Homo sapiens: one gene and its partners. The protein of the gene in region 1 purifies or fractionates together with the protein of each later gene. This does not show direct contact. Each region holds a gene or a part of one and is shown in the gene's direction. Other genes may lie near its edges. The genes, in order: SERPINB3, LGALS7, JADE1, ANXA2, MYB, AZGP1 and RNLS.

Region 1 (4,943 bases):
CACATACGATACATCTTGGTGGGAAATGTATGACTAATGGGATATTATTGGAATGGGCAGGCTTGGGTGAGTTCCTGAGAATAGTTGAGGAAGTACCAGGAAATACTGAATGCACAGGATGAAAGATAAAAACAAAGATCAGAAACATCATGGTTGAAATTACTGGAAAGAGGTCTGAGAAGCAATGAATCTCCTTCAGGGAAGCCTGCTCTGCAGTTTGCAAACCACAGCCTCTTCTGCTTCTGCCTTTTGCCAGATGATATTGACCTTCGGTGACCTCTTTCTTGCGCCAGCCCGCACTCCGCTTTTGCATTGCCTACATGGCACCAGTATAAAAATATGCATGGACAGGAGATACTGCATCTATTCAGGGTCTGGATTCAGCTTACTATAATTATAAATAACTAAATTTGGTAATATATAGTTACATAAATTACTCTTACTTCCTACTTTCTTCCTTCATATCTCAAAGGAATATTTAGATGCCATCAAGAAATTTTACCAGACCAGTGTGGAATCTGTTGATTTTGCAAATGCTCCAGAAGAAAGTCGAAAGAAGATTAACTCCTGGGTGGAAAGTCAAACGAATGGTAGGAGAGCCACCCATTATAGAAACACCTTTGAGAAATCTATGCGAGTGAGCCCTATGCCTGAAACTGCATGGGGGACCATGGGTGGGAATTGAGATGGCTTTGCAGGGAGGGAAGAAGAGGGCACTCCAGATGAAGAGTTTTTCCAAATGATTATGAAGAGAGCCTAGGGGAGCCAAGGAGGAAATCACAGGAAGCCAATTAGAAGAAAACATAGCCGGAGGATTCTTTGCTCATGTTCCTGGATGACAATAGCTTTGTGGATCCCTTGTCTCCACTCAGGTCCAATTTGAGATCATGTCCTTTACTTTAAATCAGAACCAATATTTTATGATGAATATTTAAAAGGAAACATTAGAAAGCATCTCCCTTCCCCTTTACTAATTGGGAAACAAGCAGCTCTCTGGTAAATCACCCTTTTGCCATCTGAACTAGAGCTGCCTGGATCACATCTCTAGCCACAAGTTCTGCAGGGATTATCACAGCTCTCTTCCCCATCAAGGGCAAGAGCTTAACAAATTCTCCATTCTATAGACATCTATCCTACCTCCCACCTCTCATTACAGGCCAAACTTACAGCAACTCAACATGAGAGTGAATAGGAAGATACCCCCGGAAGTAGTGTCTGACAGCACAGGACATGCGTTTCATATTACAGAGCTCATGTCACTTGTCCTAAAAAGCAGTCAGGGCCTACTTCCTCTGAATGGGGACCCCGTAGTTAAAAAAAAAAAAAAAAAAGTAGGAAGAGGAGGGAGGGAGAAAGGAAAGACACATGTTGAAAGAGTAGACAAAATCAGTTTATCAGTATTCCAAATCAGATGAATGGACTCATTCATACACAGAGAACGTGAACTCCTTCTCTATCACAAGAAGTGATGTCTCCATTAAGGGCAACTTTATACGACTGGAGCCTTGAAGAAAGCTGCATCTGGTGAACCACTGGTCAGTGAGTCTAACAATTCAAAGATCAAAGTCAGTGAGTCTCAAGTAGGGATTTGGGTCAATAATTAACGATCAGTCACGAACATTTGCAAAGCATCTTCCAGACAAGCCATTTGTAGCTTGTGTAAAAGACTCTTTTATTCTTTCCCTTGCAGAAAAAATTAAAAACCTAATTCCTGAAGGTAATATTGGCAGCAATACCACATTGGTTCTTGTGAACGCAATCTATTTCAAAGGGCAGTGGGAGAAGAAATTTAATAAAGAAGATACTAAAGAGGAAAAATTTTGGCCAAACAAGGTATTGTCTATATTTTATTTATATAATGTAATATGTTAATAAATTTAAACATTTCTGATGGAATGTACCATGACAAGTAAAAAATAAAATTGTTCATGTCTGTTTTTTTGTTGTTTTAGTCTTATAACTTTATTTAGTTAGGAATTCCTGAAGAAGCTATTGTCTCTAACTCATTACATTCTTGGATTATTTCTTAAAAGAAGGATGTGTTGATATCTCAATAATATTATCTTTTTGCCTTGTGTCTCACTTGGTATTTGTTGGACACATTGATTTATTGTAGAATACATACAAGTCCATACAGATGATGAGGCAATACACATCTTTTCATTTTGCCTCGCTGGAGGATGTACAGGCCAAGGTCCTGGAAATACCATACAAAGGCAAAGATCTAAGCATGATTGTGTTGCTGCCAAATGAAATCGATGGTCTCCAGAAGGTAAGAACTTGCATCTACAACTCTTCCTTCTACTGCCTGACATTTTTCCAAAGATACCAAGTTTAAACAAGGTAAAAGCTGGTGACCGAGTTGCCTCAAAATAATGAAAAATTCTAAATGAGGAATGATGACTCACCTTCATATTACAAAGATTTAAGCATAGGGCCTGACACAAACTGAAGGCATAGTTAATGATTAATTTATTAGAGTTACATGCATTGGATATCAATTTAATGATATTATTATGCAGCAATTTAAACTTGACTGGGAGAAATATATAGCAATGTGAGGAAAGTTTACGAATACACCAAGTAAAAAAGGGAATAGAAATTTAGGAATTTGGGGAATTGCAATTTAATAATTGCAATGTGTACTAAATAATGTATACAGAAAAATAAGATGAGCCTATTAAAAATTGACACATGTAGTAGGCTGTTGGCACAAGAAATAGTGATATATATAGTTCATTGTGTACAAAATAATGTAATCATATTTTTACATGTGTATCATACAGTTGTATACATACATATGTACACATTACATATACATAAAAACTTGATTCTGTTTATACACATACACATATAACCCAATGTATTTATATATCCAGGACTCATATTTTGCCTATTAGAATAATAATATCTAATAAAGTGAACCTTCTGTATTTCACATTTGTTGCCAAAATAAGGATTCTCCACATAGTCAATTCATTGTTAAGGTGTATTAGAAATCAACAGTTAGTCATATCAGTTTCTTTTTTCCATTTGTATAGCTTGAAGAGAAACTCACTGCTGAGAAATTGATGGAATGGACAAGTTTGCAGAATATGAGAGAGACACGTGTCGATTTACACTTACCTCGGTTCAAAGTGGAAGAGAGCTATGACCTCAAGGACACGTTGAGAACCATGGGAATGGTGGATATCTTCAATGGGGATGCAGACCTCTCAGGCATGACCGGGAGCCGCGGTCTCGTGCTATCTGGAGTCCTACACAAGGCCTTTGTGGAGGTTACAGAGGAGGGAGCAGAAGCTGCAGCTGCCACCGCTGTAGTAGGATTCGGATCATCACCTACTTCAACTAATGAAGAGTTCCATTGTAATCACCCTTTCCTATTCTTCATAAGGCAAAATAAGACCAACAGCATCCTCTTCTATGGCAGATTCTCATCCCCGTAGATGCAATTAGTCTGTCACTCCATTTGGAAAATGTTCACCTGCAGATGTTCTGGTAAACTGATTGCTGGCAACAACAGATTCTCTTGGCTCATATTTCTTTTCTTTCTCATCTTGATGATGATCGTCATCATCAAGAATTTAATGATTAAAATAGCATGCCTTTCTCTCTTTCTCTTAATAAGCCCACATATAAATGTACTTTTTCTTCCAGAAAAATTCTCCTTGAGGAAAAATGTCCAAAATAAGATGAATCACTTAATACCGTATCTTCTAAATTTGAAATATAATTCTGTTTGTGACCTGTTTTAAATGAACCAAACCAAATCATACTTTTTCTTTGAATTTAGCAACCTAGAAACACACATTTCTTTGAATTTAGGTGATACCTAAATCCTTCTTATGTTTCTAAATTTTGTGATTCTATAAAACACATCATCAATAAAATAGTGACATAAAATCATTTTTGCTTTACATTTTCTCTCTGGAAAGGGAAAGTGTCCAGTTACACACAGGAAAGACAATTTAGAGATATATTAATCACAAACAAAGGAAAATTAAAAACAGAGTAGTTCATGATGAGCCTGGAGTAGAAGGCATATCCCAGAACAGGAGGAGCCTTGTAAACCACATTAGGAACTTCCTATTTTATGCTAAAGGGATAAGAAACTCATTACAGGCTTTGATGGTTGTTTGTCAAAGAGGGGCATAAAATTATCATATCTTCATCTTGAAAATACATCTCTGGTTACTCTGATATCAATGGATGAGAGGAAAGAACAGTGTGGTTACCATATATAAATCAGGAAATCATTAGAGTATTGGGGGTGGAAATGAAGAGAAAGAAACAGCCTGGCAGAATTATTTAGGAAGTAATAGTTAAAAAAAGACATCTAAGTTTCTGAGCTATCTGACTGGAAGGATGGAAGAAAATGTTGTTTTTGAGAGAAAAAAAAGACCATGGGTTTAAATTTGTACTTGATGAATTGAGGTACTTTTAATATTCAAATGAATTTGCCTGGCAGGTACTTGAAGATATTGATCTAAATCTCAGAAACAGAATATGATCTGAAGCTCTAAATTTGTGATATTCAACATAAATACTTTAGAGTTATTGGGATAAACATGGTAATTGTAGCTAGAAGCAAAGATAAGATCCTAGGGAGGAAGGATAAAGTTAGAAGAAAGAAGAATCTGGAATTGACCTTGAAGTATATCAATATGTGTAAAGATCATGAACTGATCATTTTTATTTTCCAGAAAGTAGCTTTTCTTAGGGTTCCATATTTACTCCCATAGATTCTTCCCAGTCAGTACTGAATCCCACCTGGTTTCATAAAACATAAGTTTTAGAGAATTTGAACAAGGTTGAAGTTTTCTTCAGCAAGATTCAGCAGTCCAGGATGAAGGCAGAGGAAACAAATGTTTCACCACTTAACTGTGAGACTTGGTCAAGTTGTCGAGGGAATTGACAGACTAGCCAGAGAGTGTATAACATCA
Region 2 (4,895 bases), on another chromosome or scaffold:
TTTTTTGTAGTGATGAGGTCTTGCTGTGTTGCCCAGGCGAGAGTGTCTTCTTTAGAATGGTCAATAATGTTAGAACAATGGAGTCCACCATTCAGGGGAACATTCTCGGGAACTAACTGAGCTGGGCTGGTGGTATGATCACCGGACACCCTGCTATCCTCTCTGTCCGTGCCCATGACATGTCCTTGGCACAAAGACCCCTCTGGAGCTGAGGGGCTGGCCTCTTCCTTGACTGAGAGGTGGCCCCTGTCTAAGCCTCAGTTTTGTCCTCTGCAGAATGGGGGTGCTTGCAGCCCCTACTGAAATGCAGCTGCTAGCCTCCCTCTCTGAGCTCATGTTCCCAAGAACTGGTCCCTGAGCTTGGTGCCTTGGAGTGTGTGGGGAGGGGGCGAGAGGCTGGGGGCCTGGGACGCAGAGGGTGGAGGATGGTTCTGGGTCTGCTGTCTCCACCCAAACTTTCCACTGCCAGCCTGCCTCTGCCCAGGCCTCTCAGCAGCCTGCTGGGTGGGGCAGGAGCTGGAGTGGCGAGTGGAAAAGGTCCAGGAGGGCTGCTGGGCTGCTAGGAGTGGTTTCTGCTCAGCTCCCACACCATCCCTGCCTTTCAGAAGCATCTTTCAGCCCTACCCGCCCCTCCACCAAGCCAATTCCCCAACCCTGAGTTCTCTTGCAGAGTCTTAGGCCCAAGGGGGCTGTTTCGGGCCTGGCGGGAGGGTCCCCGCCTTGCTCTGCTTTTGATCTAGGTGGTGATGGAATGCTAGGCCACCCACCACCCCAAAACCCACCTCATCCTGACCTACAAACTTGGTGGCATGATGGTAGCAGTCCTGGAAGGAGGAAGAAGAGAGACTTGAAGGAGAGAAGTGGGACAGGAATATGTGGTAGACAGAGTTAGGGGCAGAGACGGACAGAGTGAGACAGCCAGCCCCAGAGACAGAACCCACAGGAGAGGTGCGAGCAGAGGTGAGGAGAGCCAGAGGTCAGGGCAACGGGTCCTGCACGCTCCTGCCTTTGGCAAATCGCTTCCCATCCCAGCTTCAGCCTCCTCCTCTGTACAATGGGGGTGACCCATACTCCTCCCTGTTGGAATGATGGGGTCCCAATCAGTGATTTCCTGCATCTCCTGGGCAGCCGAGGGGCCTTGGAAATGACAGGCATAGTCCTAGTGGATCCCCTCCTTTCACCCCTCCTGACTGAGGACTTCCATGAACTGGGCACACTCCAGGACCCAGGGGTGCAGCGCTGAGGGGATCAGGCAGGCCCCCTGTGAACCCATGAAGCCACCCTGTCAGTCACTAGTGCTCCTATTGTGGCCGCTGTTCCATTACAGAGGCAGAAGCTTAGATTTCAGCACGGATCAGTCCAGGCAGGAGGTTCTCAGCTGGAGAGAAGGGTCTGGAGTTCCCACCCAGATTGGCCTCCCAGGACCTAATATGTCTGTGTATAAAATAAGAGAAATTACTAACAAATAAATACATGAAATGAGATAGAGGCTCTCCGTGTGCCAGGCAGCGGGAAGACAGGGGTGGAGGGGCAGTGGCACAAGGAGCCTTCTCTGCTGTGAGTTTATTACTATTAAACATTCCCTCTTATTATCAGCTCCTAGGAGAGGGGCAGTGCACCCGGGCCCTGGGTGATGGGGGGATCAGGGCCCCCAAGAAGAGGTGCCACTCCCGCTTCGCCGGGCTTGCCCCAGGGCCAGGGTCCGTGCCAGGTGTGGGTGGTGGGTGGGAAGGGGTGGGGTGAGTCATCAGGGCCAGCCCCGCCCTGCTTTTATTTAAGGTCCCCAGCAGGCCCCACCACCACGGCTGCCCAACCCGGTCCCAGCCATGTCCGTGAGTGCTCCAGGGGCCCGGGGCGGGGCCAAGCAGGGAGGGGGCTGGGGGCTCCTCTTTCAAAGGAGCAAGTGGGCAGTGAGTGTGCCACGGACTGGCCTGGGCTGTGGCCTCCGGGTAACCCCCATCCCGACTGTCCCCTCTACCTCTTTGTGGCTTCCTCTGGGGCCCTCTTTGAGGATCTTTCTGTTTGTCTTTGTTGCTCTCCCCATCTGTTTCCCTGTCTGTTTCTGGTCTCTTTCCTGCCTCTCCGCCACCCTTTCCTCTTCCACTGATTTCTGCCAGTCTCAGCCCTGGTCGGCTCCTCTGAGGGGTGACCCACCTTCTGCCTCCCTCCTTCGGTCTCACCGGCTCACAGTGGCCCCTGCACCCCACTCTTGCAGAACGTCCCCCACAAGTCCTCACTGCCCGAGGGCATCCGCCCTGGCACGGTGCTGAGAATTCGCGGCTTGGTTCCTCCCAATGCCAGCAGGTGAGGCCCCAGGCCCTAGGGGTAAAGGGTACAGGTCTCAGGATCAGCTGACTCCCAATTTTTGCAGTCCAGAAGTAGGGGCCCGAGGCCACCTGTATCCACCAGGCTAGGAGTCCGAGGCCATTTCTGACCTCAAATCTGATGTATTCGTATTTGCCCCCGTGCCTTTGTGGCTGGGGTCCCTAAGTTTCCCTAAGCATTTGAGGTCCCTGGGTAATCTCAGGGTTCCTAGATATAGTCCTATGACTTCCATGTCTGAGTCCCAGGGAACTCTGGAAATACTCCAAGTCCTGGAGACACCCTGGACCCTGGGAGTCCTTGCCAAGCCATCCTTTGACTTCCTGGCTAAGGAACTTCGGGCCTTCTGGATTCTGAGGTACCCTGGAAATACTGGGGTTCCTGGTATTATTCTTTGTCCTGTAGAAGCTGAGGGTTCCCTGAGCATCAGGAGCACCCTGGCTATCACCCAGACCTCCTGGGCAGCTCCCAGGCTCTTTGGAAATGAGGGCACCCTGCCCTAAGCGTAGTGAGTTTGGTCTGGGTAGGTTTCTGCCAAGGGCCTCATGATATTTTGGCTGCCTTGGGAATCTAAGCTCCCTGGTCATTAGTCGCCTACCTCTCCTTCTGCGGTGTGTGCCTGTCTTCAGGTCCCTGTTAATTTGGGGGTACTCTGGGAATGGGGAGTGCCAGTCCATAAGACCTTCACTTTGGTCTGGGCGGTTTATGTTTTGTTTGTTCTTTCGTTTTTTTGTAAGGTGGGGTCTCGCTATGTTGCCCAGGCTGGTCTTTAACTTCCGGGCCCAAGCGATCCTCCCTTCTCCACCTCCCAGAGTGCTGGGATTACAGGGTGAGCCACTGCACCCAGCCAACATTTCATTTACTTATTCATTCAAAGTAAATTGTAGACATCGGTATTCCTCACCCTCAACATTTCTTGGTCTGGGTGGTTTCTGAGCCCTGACGGCCACCATCCTCCTCTTCCAGGTTCCATGTAAACCTGCTGTGCGGGGAGGAGCAGGGCTCCGATGCCGCGCTGCATTTCAACCCCCGGCTGGACACGTCGGAGGTGGTCTTCAACAGCAAGGAGCAAGGCTCCTGGGGCCGCGAGGAGCGCGGGCCGGGCGTTCCTTTCCAGCGCGGGCAGCCCTTCGAGGTGCTCATCATCGCGTCAGACGACGGCTTCAAGGTGCGTCTCTGCGACAGGGGCGTGGACGCCAAGACTTAGGTCCCTGGAGCAGAGGGTTGGGCAAAGCCAGGCTATTGGTGGAAGGCAGGGAGGTTCGGGGCGGGGTGAGGGGGGTAGGGAAGTCGTGGCCAAGGCGGAGAAGGGTGTCCTTCGACCCTCTCTCTCGCCTAAACAACTCCCACTTGGGTCCGAGGGACAGAGAGACAGCAGGGTCAGGACGAGGCGAGCACCAGCCAAGTGTCCAAGGGGTGGGCGTCCTAGCGGGAAGGCGTGGCCCAGACTCGCCATCCCAGACCCTACTCCCAGTTCATTCCTTCCTGAGGTCCGGGGTTTGAGGCATGGGGAGGGATGGGTTGGAAACAGCGCCCAGGAACTCGTCCTAGCAAGGATTGGCGGGTGGGAGTGGCGGCAGATCCTCCACCACCCACAGCTTACGCGAATTCACCTCCCTCCTCTGCGCTTTAATAGCGGGTAATGGTCGCTGAAATGAGAATATCCATTACCAGCACTAAAAAAGCCTCTTTTTACTGTGCCACACAGTCAACTCGTTTGATCCTCACGCAAGAGTTAGAATGAACAATAGCCCCATTTTCCCAGTGAGGAAACTGAGGCCCAGAGGGGATGAGTGATTTCCCCAGGGCCACCCAGCACGGGCCTCCGGAATCCTCACCACCGACCCTCCCCTGCAGGCCGTGGTTGGGGACGCCCAGTACCACCACTTCCGCCACCGCCTGCCGCTGGCGCGCGTGCGCCTGGTGGAGGTGGGCGGGGACGTGCAGCTGGACTCCGTGAGGATCTTCTGAGCAGAAGCCCAGGCGGGCCCGGGGCCTTGGCTGGCAAATAAAGCGTTAGCCCGCAGCGCGACTGTGTCTGTGTCCCATTCACTGAGATGAGCAAACTGAGACCCAGAGAGGCCAAGATACTGGCTCCGGGCCACACAGCGAATCCGAGGCGGAGGCGGGCTCTGAGCCTGCCTGTGCTTAGGACACTTTCTGTCTGCGAAGGCGTGAGGGTCGCGATCTGGGAAGGAGTGGGTGTGGGGCGTGCCCTGACGCAGCATTTGTGCAAAGCAAGCCAGCTGGGAATGCGGTCGGGCGGACCTGCTGGCGTTTGGGGCGCAGAGGCGCTCACCGCAGGTCCTGGTGCCCCCACTGCAGATCTAAGGGGCGCCAACATGGGTCCATCTGCAAAGGGGGCGAATGAGTCCCACCTTTCTGGTCATTTGTGGGCCCCAATCCTACGGGTGGAAAGCGTGTTATAAGATCCCGGGTCCCTGGGTCCCGTATCCCCCTGCAGCTCATCTCTCCCACCCTCTTCTCTCCTGGCCTCCCGCCCCTAGAGACGTCCCAGGTGGGGCTGGGAAGCCCGACGGGCGTCTCCGGGCTCCCGCTGTTCCCCGAGTCGG
Region 3 (4,246 bases), on another chromosome or scaffold:
GAGTTCAGCAAATGAGTATTTATTCAGATAAAGACGTGCTACCACTGCACTCTGGCTAGCGTTATGGAAAGTGGCCAAGTCCTGGGGGCAGTCCTGTAGTCACTCAGTGGAATGGTCACCTTTGAAAATCTGGTAGTGGCTACAGTGTCCCCTGAACAAAAGGCACGTTCAACTTTAGTGCTGCAAACAGTTTTGGATTCAAGAAAACACTGAAACCACTTTTAGATGTCTTAGAGCAGTGTATCTCAGGGTGTTGTCCCTGACCCAGAAACTTAGGAATGCAGATTCATGGGCCCCACCTCCAAAGGGTGGTTCTGTTTTGTGGGTACCCCATGTTTCTGTTTGGGAACACTGCTTTAGGGGAAAGGGATGATCAGGTTTAAGGTGGTGTGAGAGTGCACCTGGAGATGGTTTAAATGTTTTTTAAGATACCTCCTTGCAGGCAGTTGGGAGAAGATAAAGCAGGGGAGGGAGCTTGGTGGAACGGGTGCAGGAAGAAGGGACAAGCTGGATGTGTTTTGAGGATGGGAGAGCATCAGTCCAGCTCTGCAGGTGGAGGTTGCTGAGCGTTGTCCTATAGGGAACTTTATGCATAAGGGAAGTCAGGTTTAGAGTCCTCACTACTATAAAGTGGAGTTGGTCAGGGCTGATTTGTTCCGATTGAAAACCATGCCCTTTGCTTTTTGGGTTTACATTTAGATATTTCCCATCAGAGATCATGAGGAATAGCAGTGGGATTTTTCTATTTAGCAGCCATGGTGTGGTCAAAGCTACCAAAATTAAATTTGAATAATATACAAAGTTCAAATTCCCTGGCTTCCCCGTTTTCCATTTTTAAGGATAATTTCAAGTAAGAGAGATGTAAGTATTTCTATTACATGTCTGATTTGAATATGAGAGCAACCTGTCTGCTCCTAAGATGTCAGGATTTGTTTCCATTTTTTATTTCCAGGAGTCAGATTCCTTGTTAATGTAAAAATGGTTCTGTTTCCTAGAAGTTTTGAATCTGCTATGGATCTAGGTCTGGCCCCTCGTTCTTGAGCTTCACTCTTAATTTCCCCTGGGTGGAACAATATCGAAGAGAGGAGGATGTTAGCCACTTCCATTCCCAAGTTGGTGAGAATTTCTATAAAGGACACCTGCTTCTTGGATTGAGGGTGTGCAGCTGTCAGAGAAGGGAAGAAACTACCTTAACTAGGCTGATTGACATCCATGTAATATTTACTATGAGACAGGGAGAGTGTTTTTATTCTCAATTCTTTAAATTTAAAATAAGACAGGAAATGTTAGTGACATAAGGGATTGTTAGAGAAAAAAAGATGGGAAGATCCGTAAAGTGAATTTGTTAGGGGCAGGAGAAGCCTGACTTGGCATTTTCCTGTTTAGGCCAGGAGATATTACCATAATGCAAATGTGAAAGCCTGTGTTCTGTCTCTCTTAATGCTTCATGTCCTCTTGCAAATGAGACTGCCTTCAGCACAGCTGGAATTATTAGGGTTTAGTCTACACTTACGCTCTACACCAGAGTGCAAAATCTTTTGTGTCTTCACAAGGCTTGTTGATGCTTGTTGCTGTCCTCACTGCCAAAAGAAAAGGTTGGTGACCTTTGGACTTTTTCCACTTAAAGTAGGGTGATACTACTTTATTGAGTTTATGGGGAAAAAATTATAAAGGTGTCAGGGGAAGAGTTTGCTCATAATGGGATATTTTTAGGAAAGTGAAGGCATGCCTGTAGGAGCTAATGGGAAAGATGTGGTCAGATAAAGATGCTACCACTCCTGCCACTGAGATTACTTAGGAGGTCTTGTCCACATATTCCTGAAGAAGGGTTTAATTGTGTATTTGGTGTGCTGTGTCTGACATCTGTGTTTGCAGGTCCGTGTAATCTAATCAGGTTGACCAATAGAAGATTTTAGGACTGAAGGATTAGGGGAGTTTAGAGACTAATTCTTTAAGTTTTGTGTATTGAGTGATGACAGGTGGGGAACAAATCTAAATGTTGATTACTGAGCATAGGTTAGGGTTATGTGATCCAAAGCAGTCACACATCAGATAGGAAGTAGAGCCAACTCTTAGCACTGGGTCTTTTCAGTTACAAGCGAATCGGGAGAGGGCAATACCAGTTTTTCAAGTGATGATGCAGAGAACTGGACTGGAGATGTCTAACCAGCAAATCATTGGCAAAGCTGGAAATTTCCTAGGCATTCGCACACCTCATAGCAACACATAAGCTACCTGCTAACTCCAGGCCTTTCAGTGAGTTCAGTGTGCAGTTGACAAAGACATTTACTAGGATTCTTGGTAACCATTTGGTCTTCCAGTGGGCCTGGTGCAGGGGGCTCCACTTTGATGACCCTTGGCCCCATGTTTACCCAGTTCAGCCTCAGAAGATAGTTGATAAAGTGCAGAAGTGGCTTCTGAACTGCTTTAAAGCCATTGGCCATCCAAGTAATAGAAGATATTGATGCAATAATTAGCAAAGTCGACTGGCAAGAGGTTGCAAGTTTTGACTTGGACACCAATGGCCTCTGTGCCGGGATGGGTTAGGTGTGATGGAGGAGGCAGGACTTTTGTAGGAGTTCTCTAGGTGTCCCTCCCACTCCTGTGGGTCCCTAACCCTCTTCGATGTTGCTTCTGCCTATGTTGAGGGCTATATGTGGAATCCTTCTTATCTGCCCAAAAGGAGATCAGAGATTGGATAAAATGTTTAAAGTACCTATTGATTTCAAGTATCTGTCAAGGCCCTAGTAGGAGTAATTTCTCTTAGGTAAAGAAATTTAAAAAGCACCAAAGTACTGTTATACTGTATTGCTTACTTAGAATCTTTATTCTCTACATTCTAGGTTCGGAACCTCACTTACATGGTGACCCGCAGGGAAAAGATTAAACGGTCTGTGTGCAAAGTCCAGGAACAGATATTCAATCTTTACACTAAGCTTTTGGAGCAAGAAAGAGTTTCAGGTATGCATTAAGCCCTGGTAGGTCAAAGTATAGGGCAGGGGTTTGTAAGCTTTAACACTGTTGAGGAAGAAATAATCATTTCTTAATTTTCTTATAGAAGAATTTAAGAAGCATAGACGTTCATATTTAAAGGAAGTCTTTAATTTGAGGCATCATGTTTAAGGGAAAAAGCTATGAATTTGCCCTCTATAAATATGGGTGGAATCCTGTGTTCTCTGCTTACTGAGCAAACACATGAAAGTCTTTTGAGTCTCCCTAATTTCTTCATGTGCAAAATGGAGATATCGCAAGCTACCTCTTGGAATTGAGAGACTAAAATGAAACAGTGACTTATATATTACACAGTACTTGGTAAACACATCATGGGGATACCTAACAGGTTTATATTCAGCCTTGGGCTCTATCTGTAACATGGTAAATATGGTCAATATATGTTAAGACTGTACTTAAGACACAGTCCATTTTTAGATAATGTTCACAGTAGATTTTTTTTGTGTAGATGGATTGTTGACTATTTCTGAGATTGAGCACCAAATATTTATTTAGTGTCTTCTATTTTATATTGCCCTGGGCTAGGCAAACAGAAAAAGAAAACTAGGGTATATACTTCCTCTACTCTGGACAACACATCAGTTACTTGGGAGATCAAGGGCAAAGATCAAGTTGGGCAGGTTGTTTAACCTCTCTGAGATTCCGTTGATCTTAAAGTTTGTTTTAGAATCAAGACCCCTTAAGTGCATTTGAGCCCTATATTCTGTGATCATAAGCCCCCAAAAGTAGGTAGTATAAGGATTTCAGAGAAGCAGAGCTGCTGAGTGTGGATCAGGCAGAATTAGGGACCCATGGAACAGGTAGGTCTTAGACTGGACTTCATTGGAAGATAGTCAGCCTCTCTCCTGCCTTGGACTGCCCTTTAAAGTTCTAGCTGCACCATTCTTGGTGCTTGCGTTGTGCAATCATAGTTGATTCACTCTTGTTTTTGTGCATTTGTGGCTTTTTGTCACTCCATCTAGATTATTATGGTGCACAGAGAACAAAGAAGTTGTTATAACCTGTTGTGTTGAAATCCAAATTCTGGTTTATCTAACCAATTATGTGCGACTAGAGGGAGCTCGGTCATCTGAAGAAATAAAAAAAGGTTTAGGGAGGTTTAAATAATGTTCTTGAAGTGTTACATAGTTTGAATGCAATAACTTGTTGATATCCTAGATATTTTCTTCCCAAGATTAAGTATTTTCCAGGTGAATCAAGTGTATATCATTAGCTGGAACTTGCAGTTTAATTG
Region 4 (4,246 bases), on another chromosome or scaffold:
CACTGCAACCTCTGCCTCCCGGGTTCAAGAGATTCTCCTGCCTCAGCATCCCGAGTAGCTGGGATTACAGGCATGCGCCACTACGCCCAGCTAATTTTGTATTTTTAGTAGAGACGGGATTTCTCCATGTTGGTCAGGCTGGTCTCAAACTCCCGACCTCAGGTGATCTGCCCACCTTGGCCTCCCAAAGTGCTAGGATTACAGGCGTGAGCCACCGCGCCTGGCCAACATCAAGTTTTATATAAATGCAATAGATGCACACACATTAATGTATGTTGTACTGCAACACATTTGGACCCTTTTCTTAGTGTGGGTCTGCAGCATTTGAACAGTCCGACACTGCCCTCTGCTGATATACATGGGTAAAGTCTGCGCTGTAGATGAGGGAAACCATTGGTCTTGATTTTTTATTCCGAGTCTGTTTTCTCTGATGCCACTGTTCCTGAATTATGAACAGTCTGAGCTGTAAGCCTGTCACCAGAGCTAATGTCACAGTTCAGTTGTCATCCTTTTCCCAGAGAACACAAGAGTGAGGGTGCTTCGGACACTGGGCATCTCCAAAGCCTGGAATTTGATAGCTCAGGGCTGCTGTAAGATTTGTTGTTAAGTCTCTTTCTTCCTTTAGTTCTTCAGCTTAGCCCAAGCTGTGCTCAGTTTATTTTAGCGGACTTGTCTGAGTTTCCTAAGTAGACTGTACTGCAGAAAAGACGTCATTAAGAATGATAAAATGTCGACAACATTTCATGATCCTGGTTGATAAAAATAGCGCTCCTGAAAACCGAGTCTGTGGACCTTTGGAGGCAGGGATGAGTCAGCCTCTCCTAGGTTTCTTCTGACCATCAACACTTCAGATCAGTTTGTCTTATTTTCATCAAGAATCTATTTAGTTGTGATTCGAGTGGCTTTACTGGTATCTATTACTAGGTATTAGGGACTTGAAACAGACCTTTTTGAGCTGTCAGTCACTGTTGTAATCTATGTAATTGGGCCCAATGGAAGGTGCTTTAACTGCTGAAGCTTTGACCCTGTGCCAGCTCTTCCATTAGCTATCACAGTTGAATACCCGTCCAAAATCCATAAAGCTTGAAGTGACATTAACTGAACTATGCTTAAAAAAAAATCTGTTTTGACTTCTGGCAGTACCGGTGGCAGTATCTGCCATATGTTACAGTAGAATTTGCCCTTGTGATAGGAATTGTGGACAGTCTGTGGAGAGTTTGGGCCGGGCTTTGGAAATTGCCAAGGTCACCTTTGAATGTAGACATAAAAACACTATTGGAATTCTCAGATATTACCACTGGTATATCAGTGATGGAAGGAAACACATCTTACATTATTCTGCCTGTCTTGCAATTCTACAATGTCAGGATATAACATTTCTCCCACTGTGTGTTATTTTTAGACTATATTTCTATCATCCTTGAGATTGAACAACTGCCTCTCAAAATATTCAAAGATACTCGGTAGTCATTTAATAACATTTGTGTAGAATGCTGTATGGACCTTTTGCTAACAAGGGGAGAATTTTTGGCTTTGCTGGAACCTCTACAAATCATGATTAAAAACTCAGAAAGAAGAGCCATTGGCTCAAAGGTTAGATGAAGAATAAAATTCAAAATTAACCATTAACCTGAGGCTTAGCTTATATTATACAAACTACTTTTTCGGGGCATATAAACGCTAATAAGTTTAATTAATAGCTGACACGCTTTTCATGTGGGTAAGTTTCTTATTGTATTAACACCTTATAATTGATTTACATTTTAAACAGTTGTAATTCTACTTAGTTCAAAGTGATAGTTCCATATTCGGAAAGACAAGTATTAAAGAATCCTGATTATTAAATCTTGACTTTGATCATGAAGCCAGCTTTGAAATACATGTTTCATTGAGTCCTTTCAAGCTATCTGACATGCTCAAAAGTGTATATATTAAATTTGAATACATCACCCATCAAATTCTTATTCCTTAATAAAGTGTTGGTGTCTAGGTTTATTTGGCACTTCATTATTTCTTTTTGCTTCCCTAAAGTGCCTGAAGAGTGCATAATTATCAAGCAAAAATGGAAGGACAAGAATGAAATTTTTAACATTAACCCAATTTTACATTTCAAAGAGTGCAGCTAAAAATTTTTTCTTAACTATACCTTTGCCTGGTAAAAAGACTTACTCTAACAATGCTGGCTGCAAGTGACAACATAAAATTTCTGTATTCCTTTATTTTAGCGAGAATTGTTTAACAAAGAAATTTCTAATCTGTTAAAATAGTGAGTGGTTATTGTAGAAAGTGAAAAATAATAATAAGAAAAAGTTACTTTATCTACCCACAGCAAAAGGCAATTGCCAGTTTTAGTATTTTGGCATATTCTATTGCTGCCTCTTCCTATTCACTACTTTTTTTTTTTTTTGAGATGGGGTCTTACTCTGTCGTCCAGGCTGGAGTGCAGTGGCGCGATCTCGGCTCACTGCAAGCTCCACCTCCCAGGTTCACGCCATTCTCCTGCCTCAGCCTCCCAGGGTAGCTGGGACTACAGGCGCCCGCTACCATGCCCAGCTAATTTTTTGTATTTTTAGTAGAGATGGGGTTTCACTGTGTTAGCCAGAATGGTCTTGATCTCTTGACCTCGTGATCTGCCTGCCTTGGCCTCCCAAAGTGCTGGGATTACAGGCGTGAGCCACTGTGCCCAGCCCCTATTCACTACTTAAAAAAAAAAACCATATTAACAGTTGAACTCCAACATGCCAGTTCCACCATCTTGTGCTCTGGTGAAGCATTTTTTAAAGGAATAGAAAATGCCATTACTTTGTGCTAAGGGGTAGGAGTATAGATTCTTCAGAAGGAATGTAGAAAGCAGGATGCTAACAGACCCAATCCATGTTTGCAATTTACTTGATGGAGATCAGAGAAGTAGGCTAATGGTGGGGAAGCATTTCCCTGCTGATGTTCGTGCTTCCTGGTTCACAGGGGCTGGGAACCGACGAGGACTCTCTCATTGAGATCATCTGCTCCAGAACCAACCAGGAGCTGCAGGAAATTAACAGAGTCTACAAGGAAAGTGAGTAGCTTGATTTCTGTGATTCATCCTCTCAGCCCAATTTATGTGACTCTATCATGGCCACTGGGGTTAGGGTTCGGGCTAAGATGCCTGCATTAGTGATGTGCAGAAGTGCCTGCCACCTTGACTATGCAGGCAAGGTTGGCTGTGGTCCAAGTTTCTCTCCTTCACCTCCTCATTGCCTGCATTTTGATTATTACATTCCACTAGAACTTCTGTGTTAGAAGAAGGGTAGACAGGAGGGAAAGGAGAGAAAACAAAACTTGTTTTTAAACAAGATCGGATGAGGAGAAGTAGCAAGTATTATATATGGATTCCACTTATTGGGCGCTGTTCAGTGTCTGCTCAAGAGGTTGCCAACTCTGGACTGTGGATAATTGAAGAATTACAGCAAGAGACCCCTGTGGACTGGTGCACACTTAGCAGTATAGAAGGCTATGAGGGGAATAAACAATGCAACTTACATCGCTACTGCATTTCTTTTTTGTTTTACTTTTTAAAGTTATTATCATAGTTTTACATATTTTGGGGGTACATGTGATATTTTGGTACATGTATTATATATAATATGTAATTATCAAGTCAGGGTAATTGAGATATCCATCACCTCACACATTTATCTTTTTTTTTGTATCAGGAACATTACAGTTCTTCTCTAGCTACTGTATTTCAATATAGATGCTATTTTGAATATTGAAATATACTTTCATTCAAAAGCATTGTTTAATTCTTAGTAGTTTTTGCCGCTGTGCATTTTCTCAGTGGACAGTAAAGCACAATTGTGTGTGTGTGTGTGCGTGTGTAGACCTCCAATTTTTTTGATGTTCAGAACAAGTACTCACAGTCAGGAGGGCTGGGAGCCAGTATTTAAACTACACGAGAGGTCACCAATCAACGGTGAGCCTGAGGATCCCTGATTTGATCTAGCCCTGCTGCCCCCTGTTATGGATAATAACTCTGGCTCTGATTTCATGAGGGCGAAAATCATTCTAGTGAATCCTTCCTCTGTTTGGGGTTAAGGAGAATGGATATGTCCAGCTGACGTAGCTGTTCTGCTTCTCAGAGTCTTAGTGGGAAATGGGGAGATTGGGGTGGATGGTTGGCTACACAGGCAGAAAGCATAAAACCAGATGTATTTTCCTCCAAGTGTACAAGACTGATCTGGAGAAGGACATTATTTCGGACACATCT
Region 5 (4,246 bases), on another chromosome or scaffold:
CAAGGAAACCCTACCACTGTACCCATACCTTGTTTTAGTAGAATTATGTTTCTTTGCTAAGAAGTCTGGTGACTCTCACACCCCATCTCAGCACTTTCCTGGATTCCAAGGCCCTGGTGCCCTGAGCACACAACTTCCCAGGTTCCTTTTATTGTTTCTGATAAGAACTCGAATTAGAGGCAGCGTCTGGTACTCACCAGGGGTGTGGTCCCATGGGTGACATTCTTGCTCCATCATTTCTTACCCAGGTAACCTTGAGTATGGCGCCTAAATCCTCTCTTCCTTTCAAATTGCCTGGTCTGTAAAATGGATGCAGTGAATGGTAGCTATGCCACAGGTGTTTTGTGTGAGAATTAAATGAGAGGAGTTATATCAATAACACTTAGAGGCATGCGGTGCCTATAGTGAGGGCTTGTTTTATGTTGTCGTTTAACCCTTTCTTTCTCAGCCCTCCCCCACTCCACATCCCCTCCCACTGGCAATGTACAAATTGCAGCTTCCTGCCTCTTTCCTGCTATCTCGCTCCCTGGATGACATCCCTGCGTTTCCACCTCTCTCTCCCCTAATCTTAGCTGTTTTCACCCTTTCCCCACAGCATTGCCTTGACAGTTCCTCAGTGTCCCATCCCCTCTTCCCATGGACAACACCACAAACCTGCGCACACGGCCTGTTATTATTCCTCCTGTTTCACCTGTGTCCATTCTGTCTCATAAAGGACACTGTAGGCTCTGAACAGCTAAGGCCTTTCTTATTCTTTTGTCCCATGGAAAATAATCCCTCCAGATAGCAATACCAGGAATAGTGCCTTTTCTAACCCACTGGTTTCCTTTTGAGCTTACAGCCACCAAATCTTATATCTGTTTGTTTCTGTTCCCCTCTCTGCATTGACTGCTAGAGAGATCAGAGTCAAGCAGGAGGTTACATCTAGCTGGGGCACTGTGCTTTATGCTGGTGTTTCGTGTGCAAATCTCATACCATCTTCATGTTACAGTTGTTCCTTAGTGTCCATGGGGGATTTGTTTCAGAACCCGCAAGGACACCAAAGTCCAGGGATGCTCAAGTCCCTGATATAAAATAGCATTGTGTTTGCATATAATCTACACACATCTTACCATATAATTTTTTTTATTATTTGTATACATTCGTGGGGTACAAGTGTAATTTTGTTACATGGATGTATTGCATAGTGGTCAAAGTCGAGGCTGTGAGTGTATTTATCGTTGGAATAATGTACATTGTACCCGTTCATTCCTGTATACTTTAAGTCATCTCTAGATTACTTATAATAGCTAATACAATGTAAATGCTATGGAAATAGTTGTTATATTGTTAGGGGATAATGACAAGGAAAACACCTATACATGTTCAATACACAGCAATTATTTTTTTCTGAATATTTTTGATCTGCCATTGATTGAATCTATGGATGTGGAACCCACAGATATGGGACCCACAGATGCAGAGGGCCAACTGTGTTTATTTTTTCCAAATTTGTTTCCCTGTTATGACTCTTCTTTATACACATTTTTAAACTCTGTTGTCTTGTATTTCTTTTCTAATCATCTTACGTCCTTTTGGAAACCAAGTGGGGCATAAATAGTACATGTTTGCATTTGAGGCAACACAGAGGCATCGCAGGAGCTGGAGACAGCAAAGTTCAAAGCCAGTCCACCACTTACCTACAGAGTGGCCTTGGGCAAGTTACCTCCATTTTCTGTCTCCATTCTCGAGCCTGTCTAGAGAGAGAATGAACCTGCCTCCCGAGGTGATGGTGCTGTTTTAATGAAATAATGCATGTGAAATGTGAAGTGCCACTGTCCCTGGCATGGAGATGCTGTCCTTAGATATTAGGTCCATCTTGTATCTTCTAGTGTATCTTTAAAAATTAAACTATACTGGCTTCATGCCTGTAATCTCAGCACTTTGGGAGGCCAAGACCGGCAGATCACTTGAGTCCAGGAGTTCAAGACCAACCTGGGCAACATGGTGAAACCCTGTCTCTACAGAAAATACAAAAATTAGTGGGGCTTGGTGGCACGTGCCTGTAGTCCCAGCTGCTTGGGTAGCTGAGGTAGGAGGATCACTTGAGCCCAGGAGGCTGAGGCTACAGTGAGCTGTGATTGCACCAATACCGATCAGCCTGGTATGACAGAGCATGACTCTGTCTCAAAAAAAAAAGGAAAAAAATTAAACTATACTGATAAATATTTCTAAAGTAATTGATGAAAACATATATATGACACTTAGCAGGTGTTGATCAATTCCAGTGCGTGCATGAGCTGCTTTGCACTGTGGCTACAGCACTCAGCAGTTTGCTTAGTGAGTAGATGGCCATAGCTCACTTTAGGTATCTGGAGAATAATGCTCATTCCTGTCTCCAGCTTTGTAAAATTGCCTAATAGACGGAAGGCATTAAAATATGAAGATGGGATTATATCTTATGAAGCTGCTTGGAATGGGTTTTCCCTCTTAACAAATAATTTCTGATCATCCATATCCCTTAAGAACACCGGATTTCTGGGGGCCAGGGAGGTAAGATTCTATCTGACAAAGCCTTCCTGGTGTCAACCACTTGCCATCTGTTGGTCAGTGCTGGCCCTGCTGGGTCTATAGAATGAGCTTCTTTGTCTGACGCTCCTGTTGCCATCCCTTTCTCCATCAGCCTTGTAGCAGTACCTGGGAACCTGCATCCTGTGGAAAGATGGAGGAGCAGATGACATCTTCCAGTCAAGCTCGTAAATACGTGAATGCATTCTCAGCCCGGACGCTGGTCATGTGAGACATTTCCAGAAAAGCATTATGGTTTTCAGAACACTTCAAGTTGACTTGGGATATATCATTCCTCAACATGAAACTTTTCATGAATGGGAGAAGAACCTATTTTTGTTGTGGTACAACAGTTGAGAGCAGCACCAAGTGCATTTAGTTGAATGAAGTCTTCTTGGATTTCACCCAACTAAAAGGATTTTTAAAAATAAATAACAGTCTTACCTAAATTATTAGGTAATGAATTGTAGCCAGTTGTTAATATCTTAATGCAGATTTTTTTAAAAAAAACATAAAATGATTTATCTGTATTTTAAAGGATCCAACAGATCAGTATTTTTTCCTGTGATGGGTTTTTTGAAATTTGACACATTAAAAGGTACTCCAGTATTTCACTTTTCTCGATCACTAAACATATGCATATATTTTTAAAAATCAGTAAAAGCATTACTCTAAGTGTAGACTTAATACCATGTGACATTTAATCCAGATTGTAAATGCTCATTTATGGTTAATGACATTGAAGGTACATTTATTGTACCAAACCATTTTATGAGTTTTCTGTTAGCTTGCTTTAAAAATTATTACTGTAAGAAATAGTTTTATAAAAAATTATATTTTTATTCAGTAATTTAATTTTGTAAATGCCAAATGAAAAACGTTTTTTGCTGCTATGGTCTTAGCCTGTAGACATGCTGCTAGTATCAGAGGGGCAGTAGAGCTTGGACAGAAAGAAAAGAAACTTGGTGTTAGGTAATTGACTATGCACTAGTATTTCAGACTTTTTAATTTTATATATATATACATTTTTTTTCCTTCTGCAATACATTTGAAAACTTGTTTGGGAGACTCTGCATTTTTTATTGTGGTTTTTTTGTTATTGTTGGTTTATACAAGCATGCGTTGCACTTCTTTTTTGGGAGATGTGTGTTGTTGATGTTCTATGTTTTGTTTTGAGTGTAGCCTGACTGTTTTATAATTTGGGAGTTCTGCATTTGATCCGCATCCCCTGTGGTTTCTAAGTGTATGGTCTCAGAACTGTTGCATGGATCCTGTGTTTGCAACTGGGGAGACAGAAACTGTGGTTGATAGCCAGTCACTGCCTTAAGAACATTTGATGCAAGATGGCCAGCACTGAACTTTTGAGATATGACGGTGTACTTACTGCCTTGTAGCAAAATAAAGATGTGCCCTTATTTTACCTACTTTTGTTTTCTCTCTTATTTGTCACTATGGACAACAGTTACACTTTAAAGAAAATGGAGCAGACTCAAGGCACTTTCCTCTAATAATTGCACACCATATGCACTTCGTGTGAAGAAGCCAGGAATCATTACAATGGAAAAGAAAGAACAAGCAAACTGAGTTAAATAGTTCACAAACAATCACATGGACAATGGGGAGGAATCTTCCAGAATGCATCAGTCAGGGTCTAGCGGCATTTGAGTGCGGATGCTGTAAGGGGAATTCGTTCACAAAT
Region 6 (4,147 bases), on another chromosome or scaffold:
GAGATTTGGGATAAAGATATCAAACACCAGAAAGGTAGAAAGAAGTGATCAGATTAGGGTTACTTAGGTGATGATATGAACTCTTCCTAGAACTGAGAGAAAAAGAGAGCCTTCCTTTACTCATATGAAATCACAAATAATTTCTATCCAATTTGGAAGTACACTTTGGTGTAGTTGTGACAGCTTCCTCAGGACTCAGCATAAATTCAAACAAATAATTGTCCTTAGAAGAGATGCTATAGAAGAGATAGAAATATATTCATATTCTGTAGCTTTTTTTTTTTTGAGATGGAGTTTTGCTCTTGTCACCCAAGCTGGAGTGCAGTGATGCAATCTCAGCTCACTGCAAACTTTGCCTCCTGGGTTCAAGGGATTCTCCTGCCTCAGCCTCCCGATAACTGGGACTACAGGCTACAGGCATGTGTCACTACTCCTGGTTAATTTTTTTTTTTTTTTTAAGACTGAGTCTTGCTCTGTCTTTCAGGCTGATGTACAATGGCTCCATCTCGGCTCACTACAACTTCTGTCCCCCAGGTTCAAGCGATTCTCCTGCCTCAGCCTCATGAGTAGCTGGGATTACAGGCATGTGCCAGCACACCCAGCAAATTTTTGTATTTTTAGTAGAGATGAGGTCTTACCATGTTGGCCAGGCTGGTCTCAAACTCCTGACCTCAGGTGATCCTTTGGCCTCAGCCTCCCTAACTGCTGGGATTACAGGCATGAGCCACTGCGTCCAGCCTAATTTTATATTTTTGGTAGAGATGGGGTTTCACCATATTGGCCAGGCTGGTCTCGAACTCATGACCTAAGGTGATCCATCCTCCTCAGCCTCTCAAAGTGCTGGGATTACAAGTGTGAGCCACTGGGCCTGGTGCTTTTTTTTTTTTTTTTTTTTTTTTTTTTGAGATAGGGTCTCACTCTGTCACCCAGGCTGAAATGCAGTAGTGTGATTTTGGCTCATTGCAGCCTTGACTTCCCAGGCTGAAGTGATCCTCCCACCTCAGCCTCCTGAGTAGCTGGGGCTACAGGCATGCACCACCATGCTGCGCTAATTTTTATATTTTTTGTAGTGGTGGGATTTCGCCATATCACCCTGGCTGGTCTGGAACCCCTGGGCTCAAGCGATCCACTCGCTTCAGCTTCTCAAAGTGCTGGGATTACAGGCATGAGCCACAGCGCCCAGGCTGTAGCTCTCTTAAGGAGGAACATATCTCATCTGAGACAAACCTGAAATGCCAAACCAAACTGAGTTAGCCCCTCTCTGTCTGTTGTATATATTGGAGTAATAACCTATTTGTCTTGATAAAGGGATTGCATGCTTGAATTGCAAAAACCTTTATTTCTTTTGGGTTGCCCAATGTGCAAGACTAAGAGTTATTTTGATAAATTTCTCACCAGGCTGACTGTCTCTCTGTGGGGTCGGGGGAGTTTTCAGGGTCTCACGTATTGCAGGGAAGGTTTGGTTGTGAGATCGAGAATAACAGAAGCAGCGGAGCATTCTGGAAATATTACTATGATGGAAAGGACTACATTGAATTCAACAAAGAAATCCCAGCCTGGGTCCCCTTCGACCCAGCAGCCCAGATAACCAAGCAGAAGTGGGAGGCAGAACCAGTCTACGTGCAGCGGGCCAAGGCTTACCTGGAGGAGGAGTGCCCTGCGACTCTGCGGAAATACCTGAAATACAGCAAAAATATCCTGGACCGGCAAGGTACTCACTGCTTCCTGCTCCCCAGTACTGAGCCCAGAATAAAAGACGATCTCAGGCTAGGAGCTCAGGCAACATCTTAGTCCGGTCTCATCTGTTCCTGGATGTCCCTCAGACCCCCAGCTTTCATCTTTTAGGATTTATTCCTTCCCTGGGATAATATAATTTGTGGTCCAAAAAGAACATCATCAAAATTTCAGGCAGAATGGGCCAGGAAGGCCATTCTTTCTTGATGAGTGTCCCCAAATCATCTCCAATTAACAGACAAGGAGCTTGAGGTTAGGGAGGTGAGGGTAACACTGTCTGTAAGAGGCAGAGCTGGGACTCAAATTCCAGATTTCAGATTCCAAATCCCATCGTTTTTTATCTCTACAATGATGCCTCCCATCTGGGTGGTGGAGAGAAGGGAGGCGTGTAAAATGTCAGCCCCAGAAGGACAAGAGCAAGCCAGTGTGAGCGGAATTGATGGCTGCAAGCTGAGACTTGGATTGGAGACGTAGTGAGACTCAGGATTGTGCAGTGCTGCAGGGAAGTGGTTGCTGGATAGAGGCATGGGCTGAACCAAGCAGCTGGACTGAGACTGGGGGACAGAACTCCAAAGCCCACTGAGATGTGGGAAAACATGGAGAAGCACACGGAGCATTCACAACTTATTGCCGTCAGAGTCAATACATGGGTGAGGTGGGGATTGGGCAAGAGGGAAAGCGTCAGCCTTCCCTGATATTCTGGAAAGTCTCCCGGGGCTGGGGGTGGGCAGGTACAGAGCTTCGAGCTCTGCTGATCGCTGACATCCAGGGGTGGGGGTAGGAAGAGACCTGGGCCGGGAGAAGTCCACCTCAAGCCTGCAGTGTCACACTCTATCCCTCCACAGATCCTCCCTCTGTGGTGGTCACCAGCCACCAGGCCCCAGGAGAAAAGAAGAAACTGAAGTGCCTGGCCTACGACTTCTACCCAGGGAAAATTGATGTGCACTGGACTCGGGCCGGCGAGGTGCAGGAGCCTGAGTTACGGGGAGATGTTCTTCACAATGGAAATGGCACTTACCAGTCCTGGGTGGTGGTGGCAGTGCCCCCGCAGGACACAGCCCCCTACTCCTGCCACGTGCAGCACAGCAGCCTGGCCCAGCCCCTCGTGGTGCCCTGGGAGGCCAGCTAGGAAGCAAGGGTTGGAGGCAATGTGGGATCTCAGACCCAGTAGCTGCCCTTCCTGCCTGATGTGGGAGCTGAACCACAGAAATCACAGTCAATGGATCCACAAGGCCTGAGGAGCAGTGTGGGGGGACAGACAGGAGGTGGATTTGGAGACCGAAGACTGGGATGCCTGTCTTGAGTAGACTTGGACCCAAAAAATCATCTCACCTTGAGCCCACCCCCACCCCATTGTCTAATCTGTAGAAGCTAATAAATAATCATCCCTCCTTGCCTAGCATAACAGAGAATCCTTTTTTTAACGGTGATGCGCTGTAGAAATGTGACTAGATTTTCTCATTGGTTCTGCCCTCAAGCACTGAATTCATCTGAAACTCTTGGTTTCCCCTGGAGGCCATGGTTCCTGGGCACCTTGACCTGGGCAATCCCAAGTGTGGCCTGAACCCCCTTTCCCTTGGGGATTGTTCAGGTGTCCCTAGACGCCTTGTGGTATTGTACCTAATACCCATGAAGGGAGAGGATGATATTACTTGCCAGTGTACACCCCCCTGTGATATTGTTCATAATGTCCAGAGTGAAGAAAGATGATATTACTCCCAATATCACAGAAGGTGTACACCCCCCCTTGATATTGTTCCTAATACCCAGTTGGGGAGGGGAGAATATCTCTCCCAATATACAAGGGGTGTTTAAACTCTCTGTGATATTGTTCCTAATATTCAGGGGGGACAAGGATGATATTACCCAAATATTGCAGGGGTTGTACACCCCCCCTTTGATATTGTTCCTAATATCCAGGGGTGGAGAGGATATTACTCCCAATATTGCAGGGGTCTACATCCTCCCCCCGTGACATTGTTCTTAATAACCAAAAGGTGAGAAGCTGACATTACTCCCAATACCACAGGGGGTGTACACCCCCTATGAGATATTGTTCTTAATATCCAGGAGGGGAGAAAATGATATTACTCTCAATAGCGCAGGGAATTTACATCCCCCGTCGTAATCTTGTTCTTAATATTCAGGAAGGGAGAGGATGATACGACTCCCAGTATCGCAGGGGGTGTGCACCCCCCCGTGATTTTTTTGCTAATATCCAGGGTGGGAGTGGATAATACGCAGGAAGTGTACAGGTCTCTGTGATATTTTTCCTAATATCCAGGGGGGAGAGGAAGATATTACTTTTAATAGTGTACGGGGGGTGTACACCCCTCTGTGATAGTGTTCCTAACATCTTGGGAGGGAGAGGATGATATTACTCCCAATATCGCAGGGGGTGAAAACTTTTTTT
Region 7 (4,246 bases), on another chromosome or scaffold:
ATTTCTTTAATTACAAATGAGTTTATGCATTGTTTTTGTTTTATTAGCCAGCTCTTTGCAGTTTTCTTCTGTGAATGTCTTATTCATAACCTTTGCCCATTTTCTATTAGGATTTTCATTTGTTCCTTATATATTTTATGAGCGTTTTGAAAATGGACCTTTTAAAAAAGAAAATAGAATTTTTCTTGGATAATTGATGATTATTTTTAAAGGAGAATGAAGCTTCTTGATAAATCATAATTCAGTTAAGTACCCAAGTTGAGATAACTGAGAAAGGATATAGGCTAAGAATTTTTTTATAAGCCATTTCCAGCATAATTACTGTTTTGATCTTTATCATCAAATATTACTTATTGAGAACCCCAAGAATCCTTGACACTGGGCATCAGAGAGGTCAGTAAGATTGAATAAACAACATGAGAACATAATAAATACCATTCTGGCTTAGACCATTTCTCCATTCGAGATTCAGTATATAGATGGTATGTTAGACTACTCCAGAGAAACAGAACCAATAGGGTATGTGTGTGTATGTATGTGTGCATGCATGTGTATATGTGAGTATGGATAAAGAGAGAGATTTATTATAAGGAATTGGCTCACATGATTATGTTGGTTGGTAAGTCCCAAGATCTGCAGGGTGATCCAGCAAGGTAGACACCCAGGAAAGCTGGTGGTATACTTCTAGTCCAAAGGCTGGCAGGCTCAAGACTCAGGAAGAGCCAATGTTTCAGTTCTACTCTGAAGGCTGGAAAAAAGCTGATGAGCCAGTTCAAAGGCTTTCAGGCAGGAAGAATTCTCCTTTATGTGAAGGAGGATCAATGCGTTTGTCCTATGTAGGCCTTCAACTGATTGGATGAGGCCTACCCACATTAGGGAGGGCAATCTGCATTACTTGATCTACTGATAATAAATGTTAATCTCTTCTAAAAACGTGCTCATAGAAACACCCAGAATAGTGTTTGACCAAATATGTAGGCATCCTATGGCCAAGTCAAGTTGACACATAAAATTGACCATCACAGATGGTGACACTATTGGACGTTTTGTAGAATGTTACTATCAGCTTCATATAGTGTGGCCATATCACTTTAAAAAATCTCATTTCCACCATGATTTTCCCCTGACCCAGGTTGGATGAGTATACCTATTGAAATCATCAGGTACTTACTAACTGATATGCGTGCATGCATGCATGTGCAGGAGCTTAGAAAATGATATCCCAAAATGGAGCCCTCAGAAGTAGCTCTCTCTGACCTTCTCCTGCCCTCCTATCTCTGGCCTTGCATTCATCCCTGAGGCTAGCCCTAGAAAATAGAATCTCTTTTCCCAAGGCAGGTCGTAGAAATAAGAACCCCTTTTCCCCCCAAACCAGCCATAAAACCTAAAACTATCACTCTAGCTTTCCCCTGCCTTCCTTTGTAAAAACTGGCCATAAAGAAATTATCTGACCTACCGTGTTTGATTGTAGCTCACAACAGTTCCAGAGAGGGTCATGACCTATAACCATAAAGAAAGAATGCTGCACAGAGAGGACAAGAAGAATCTAGACAGACAGGCCTTGGTGGGTTTTACCAGTTTGTTAGCCATAGATATAACCCTTTGTCCAATCATATTGCTGCAGAGCTGTCCATACTTTGTTGAATCTAAGCATAAAAATGGACTCCTGTATCTTTGGGTCTTCAGTCTGAAGGTTTCAGTGTCATGCAAAACTATGATTAAATAAATTTGTATGCTTTTTCTCATATTAGTATGCCTTTTGTCAGTTGATTTTTACTGAAATTTCACCCCTACACATGCATATATACATACATACACATATCCTTTTGTTCAATAAACATTCATTGAATACTTACCATAATGCCAAACATTGTTCTAGGTACTAATGATACAAGAACCAATGTCCTTGCCTTCATGGAGTTGATGTCCTGGCAGAGAAACATCTTTGAATACATTGCATCTATCTCCTTATTTTGTTATGTGTTTGGGGGAATACATACGTTTTAACTTCCAATTTTGCTTTTTAAGCTTTTCAGAGAAGAGATTATTTTTAATTCCTTGTACCTCACTCAGAAACTAATAGTACCTCCTACATAGTAGGTAGAGTGATATAAATGTTAAAAATTTATTTTATATCAAGTTCATGGTCTATTTAACTTGAGTTTATATAAATTTTTCTTTGTTTATTTTAATGCTATTTAATGTTATTCTTGTAATACTTCGAGATTCTCCTCTACCCCGATCTATTATCTATAGGATTTGTTGGACCCTATCTATAATATTTTTAATTTTATAATTATATCCCTTTTAAACATTCTTTAAGTCCCTTTAACCTTTCTATTCTATAAATGGTCCACAAAAACATTTTGGTTTTTCCACACTATAAGCTAAGACAGTCCCTGAAATCAGAATGACCTGGATTCCAGTTAATGTCCTACCATCCCTTTCTGTTCATGTAATATTAGGAAAGTTTAAAATCTGTACCTCAGTTCTTTCATTGAAAAAAATGAGCGTAATGAAATGCAAAAATGAGGGTACTTACTACAGAATATTGTAATGGAAGTTCTTGCTACAAAGTGTTGTGAGGAATGAAAGATATAATGCACTCAAATTCAAGCAAGTAGTAAGCCAGTCACATAGTAATCTCTTGAAAAATGTTAGTTTAAAAAATATTGTACTTGAATGAAGCTGACCTTCATATATTCCTTACTTTAAGAAATCAAATTGCCAACTATTTTCAAAAATACTCTATATTTTGGAATCTAGTTGAGTTTAAAACCCCACAATCTGATGGACCAACCAGTGGTCATTCAGATTGGGACCAGACTCCCAGGGCAATTATTTGTCTGGGATATGCCTAATCAGGCATGCTTTAGAATAGGTTCAAACCTTTAAAGCCAATATTTAACTAGACCAATTTCCCAGAACAAATAGTAAAAGGTAAAGGAAATAGATGCTTTCTTCTTGACCTTATGTTCTATTTTAATTTATTGTCCGATGTGTTCACATTAACCTCATTGCAGAGAAAGCTGTATTTATTGGCATCAATTTCACTGACTGCCTGCCTTCTCCATTAATACAATCTTCTTGAGTGAGTGAAACATGATTTTCTTTTGTTCTTTTTTTATACTAGTTGTCATTATGCTGGGGTGAGAATTGACAATAGCAAAAGTGATTCTAGCTATCAGTTATTAAGTGCTGACTATTTATCTAATACTACCTGAGGTACTTTACGTATGTAGTTTCTAATTCTCACAGTAAATTTTCAAGGGAGTTAATCATCATCCCTATTTGTTAATGCGAAGAATGAGACTCAGGTACTTTGTCTAAGGTGGCTTGGCTAGTTGGTAACAGAACTGAAGTGCCTTTGCAATTAATCATGTTGTTTTTTTCTATTAAGTCTCTCATGGAGGGCAATGAGAGGTGCTCATACTCTCCAATTTAACATCTATTTTGTAGAGCCTTCTCTTTCCTTATTGATTATTTTCCTATAGTATGAAGATTGTACCCATCCCACCTGGTGCTACGTGTCAGTAGACACATGGTTCAATAGAACAACCTCATAGTTCCCTGTGCCCCTAGTTTCCCTCTTTCATCAGTTAATTCCTGACATAGGGGGAAGTGGATATTGAAGAGTAATACCACCTTAGTTCTTTATGCAACCTGGGAAATTGGTCACCTGATGGTTCCTGCCTATGACATGGAAAATGATGGGCCAGGTCCTTTTGCTTTTGAATAAGGTCCCATGTTACTAAATTATTCAAAAAAGATGAATTTAGCTTCCAGGACACAGAGTGAGCAGCTTTTATTTAGCTTGTCCTACCAATAGGGAGGGCTGTTGCTGCATTTATTTGTTTTTATTTTATCATCTACCTAAAAAGGACATTGGCTAGCGATCCAGAAAGTCAACATTTGCAAAGTAACCTGTCAAAATTGACAAGATCAATTTATTAGAAAAAAATGGTTTAGGTGGCAGATGCCATTAGCTAGGATGGCTTCTGTATTGTAATATTTACTTTTATTATTCTCTCTCTTTTTACTTTTGTGCCTATTTTCTTTCTAAAATTGATAGAGGGGAAGTGAGTCTGGGTGGTTCTGTCTCAAAATTTCTCCCAGCAGGTGATCCTGGCACTCATCCGTAACGATGTCCTTTTTAGAGAAGCTAGAGGATGGCATGAAAACCAGGTTAAGCATTCTTCTATTTACTTCAAGCTGTGTAGTCAGTTAGAGATGGTTCACATCACTT

The links.
Region 2: the proteins of SERPINB3 (region 1) and LGALS7 purify together in Homo sapiens (affinity purification with mass spectrometry, with the first as the bait; one large-scale study listed by BioGRID). This does not show direct contact.
Region 3: the proteins of SERPINB3 (region 1) and JADE1 purify together in Homo sapiens (affinity purification with mass spectrometry; one large-scale study listed by BioGRID and IntAct). This does not show direct contact.
Region 4: the proteins of SERPINB3 (region 1) and ANXA2 purify together in Homo sapiens (affinity purification with mass spectrometry, with the first as the bait; one large-scale study listed by BioGRID). This does not show direct contact.
Region 5: the proteins of SERPINB3 (region 1) and MYB purify together in Homo sapiens (co-immunoprecipitation; one large-scale study listed by IntAct). This does not show direct contact.
Region 6: the proteins of SERPINB3 (region 1) and AZGP1 purify together in Homo sapiens (affinity purification with mass spectrometry, with the first as the bait; one large-scale study listed by BioGRID). This does not show direct contact.
Region 7: the proteins of SERPINB3 (region 1) and RNLS purify together in Homo sapiens (pull-down; one study listed by IntAct). This does not show direct contact.

What each region holds. Positions count from the first base shown.
Region 1 is NC_000018.10:63,654,160-63,659,102, reverse strand, and holds the end of SERPINB3 (serpin B3), read left to right. Parts: intron 1-472; coding exon 473-590; intron 591-1,690; coding exon 1,691-1,833; intron 1,834-2,116; coding exon 2,117-2,272; intron 2,273-3,041; coding exon 3,042-3,446; 3' UTR 3,447-3,906; downstream 3,907-4,943. UniProt on the Homo sapiens protein: May act as a papain-like cysteine protease inhibitor to modulate the host immune response against tumor cells. Also functions as an inhibitor of UV-induced apoptosis via suppression of the activity of c-Jun NH(2)-terminal kinase (JNK1).
Region 2 is NC_000019.10:38,770,424-38,775,318, reverse strand, and holds LGALS7 (galectin-7), read left to right. Parts: upstream 1-1,801; 5' UTR 1,802-1,826; coding exon 1,827-1,832; intron 1,833-2,215; coding exon 2,216-2,304; intron 2,305-3,288; coding exon 3,289-3,490; intron 3,491-4,179; coding exon 4,180-4,293; 3' UTR 4,294-4,351; downstream 4,352-4,895. UniProt on the Homo sapiens protein: Could be involved in cell-cell and/or cell-matrix interactions necessary for normal growth control. Pro-apoptotic protein that functions intracellularly upstream of JNK activation and cytochrome c release.
Region 3 is NC_000004.12:128,865,013-128,869,258, forward strand, and holds part of JADE1 (protein Jade-1), read left to right. Parts: intron 1-2,843; coding exon 2,844-2,961; intron 2,962-4,246.
Region 4 is NC_000015.10:60,355,955-60,360,200, reverse strand, and holds part of ANXA2 (annexin A2), read left to right. Parts: intron 1-2,964; coding exon 2,965-3,055; intron 3,056-4,202; coding exon 4,203-4,246. UniProt on the Homo sapiens protein: Calcium-regulated membrane-binding protein whose affinity for calcium is greatly enhanced by anionic phospholipids. It binds two calcium ions with high affinity. May be involved in heat-stress response.
Region 5 is NC_000006.12:135,215,202-135,219,447, forward strand, and holds the end of MYB (transcriptional activator Myb), read left to right. Parts: intron 1-197; exon of another isoform or gene 198-299; intron 300-1,679; exon of another isoform or gene 1,680-2,662; coding exon 2,663-2,779; 3' UTR 2,780-3,971; downstream 3,972-4,246. UniProt on the Homo sapiens protein: Transcriptional activator; DNA-binding protein that specifically recognize the sequence 5'-YAAC[GT]G-3'. Plays an important role in the control of proliferation and differentiation of hematopoietic progenitor cells.
Region 6 is NC_000007.14:99,965,719-99,969,865, reverse strand, and holds the end of AZGP1 (zinc-alpha-2-glycoprotein precursor), read left to right. Parts: intron 1-1,435; coding exon 1,436-1,711; intron 1,712-2,579; coding exon 2,580-2,863; 3' UTR 2,864-3,136; downstream 3,137-4,147. UniProt on the Homo sapiens protein: Stimulates lipid degradation in adipocytes and causes the extensive fat losses associated with some advanced cancers. May bind polyunsaturated fatty acids.
Region 7 is NC_000010.11:88,576,525-88,580,770, reverse strand, and holds part of RNLS (renalase isoform 1 precursor), read left to right. Parts: intron 1-4,246. UniProt on the Homo sapiens protein: Catalyzes the oxidation of the less abundant 1,2-dihydro-beta-NAD(P) and 1,6-dihydro-beta-NAD(P) to form beta-NAD(P)(+). The enzyme hormone is secreted by the kidney, and circulates in blood and modulates cardiac function and systemic blood pressure.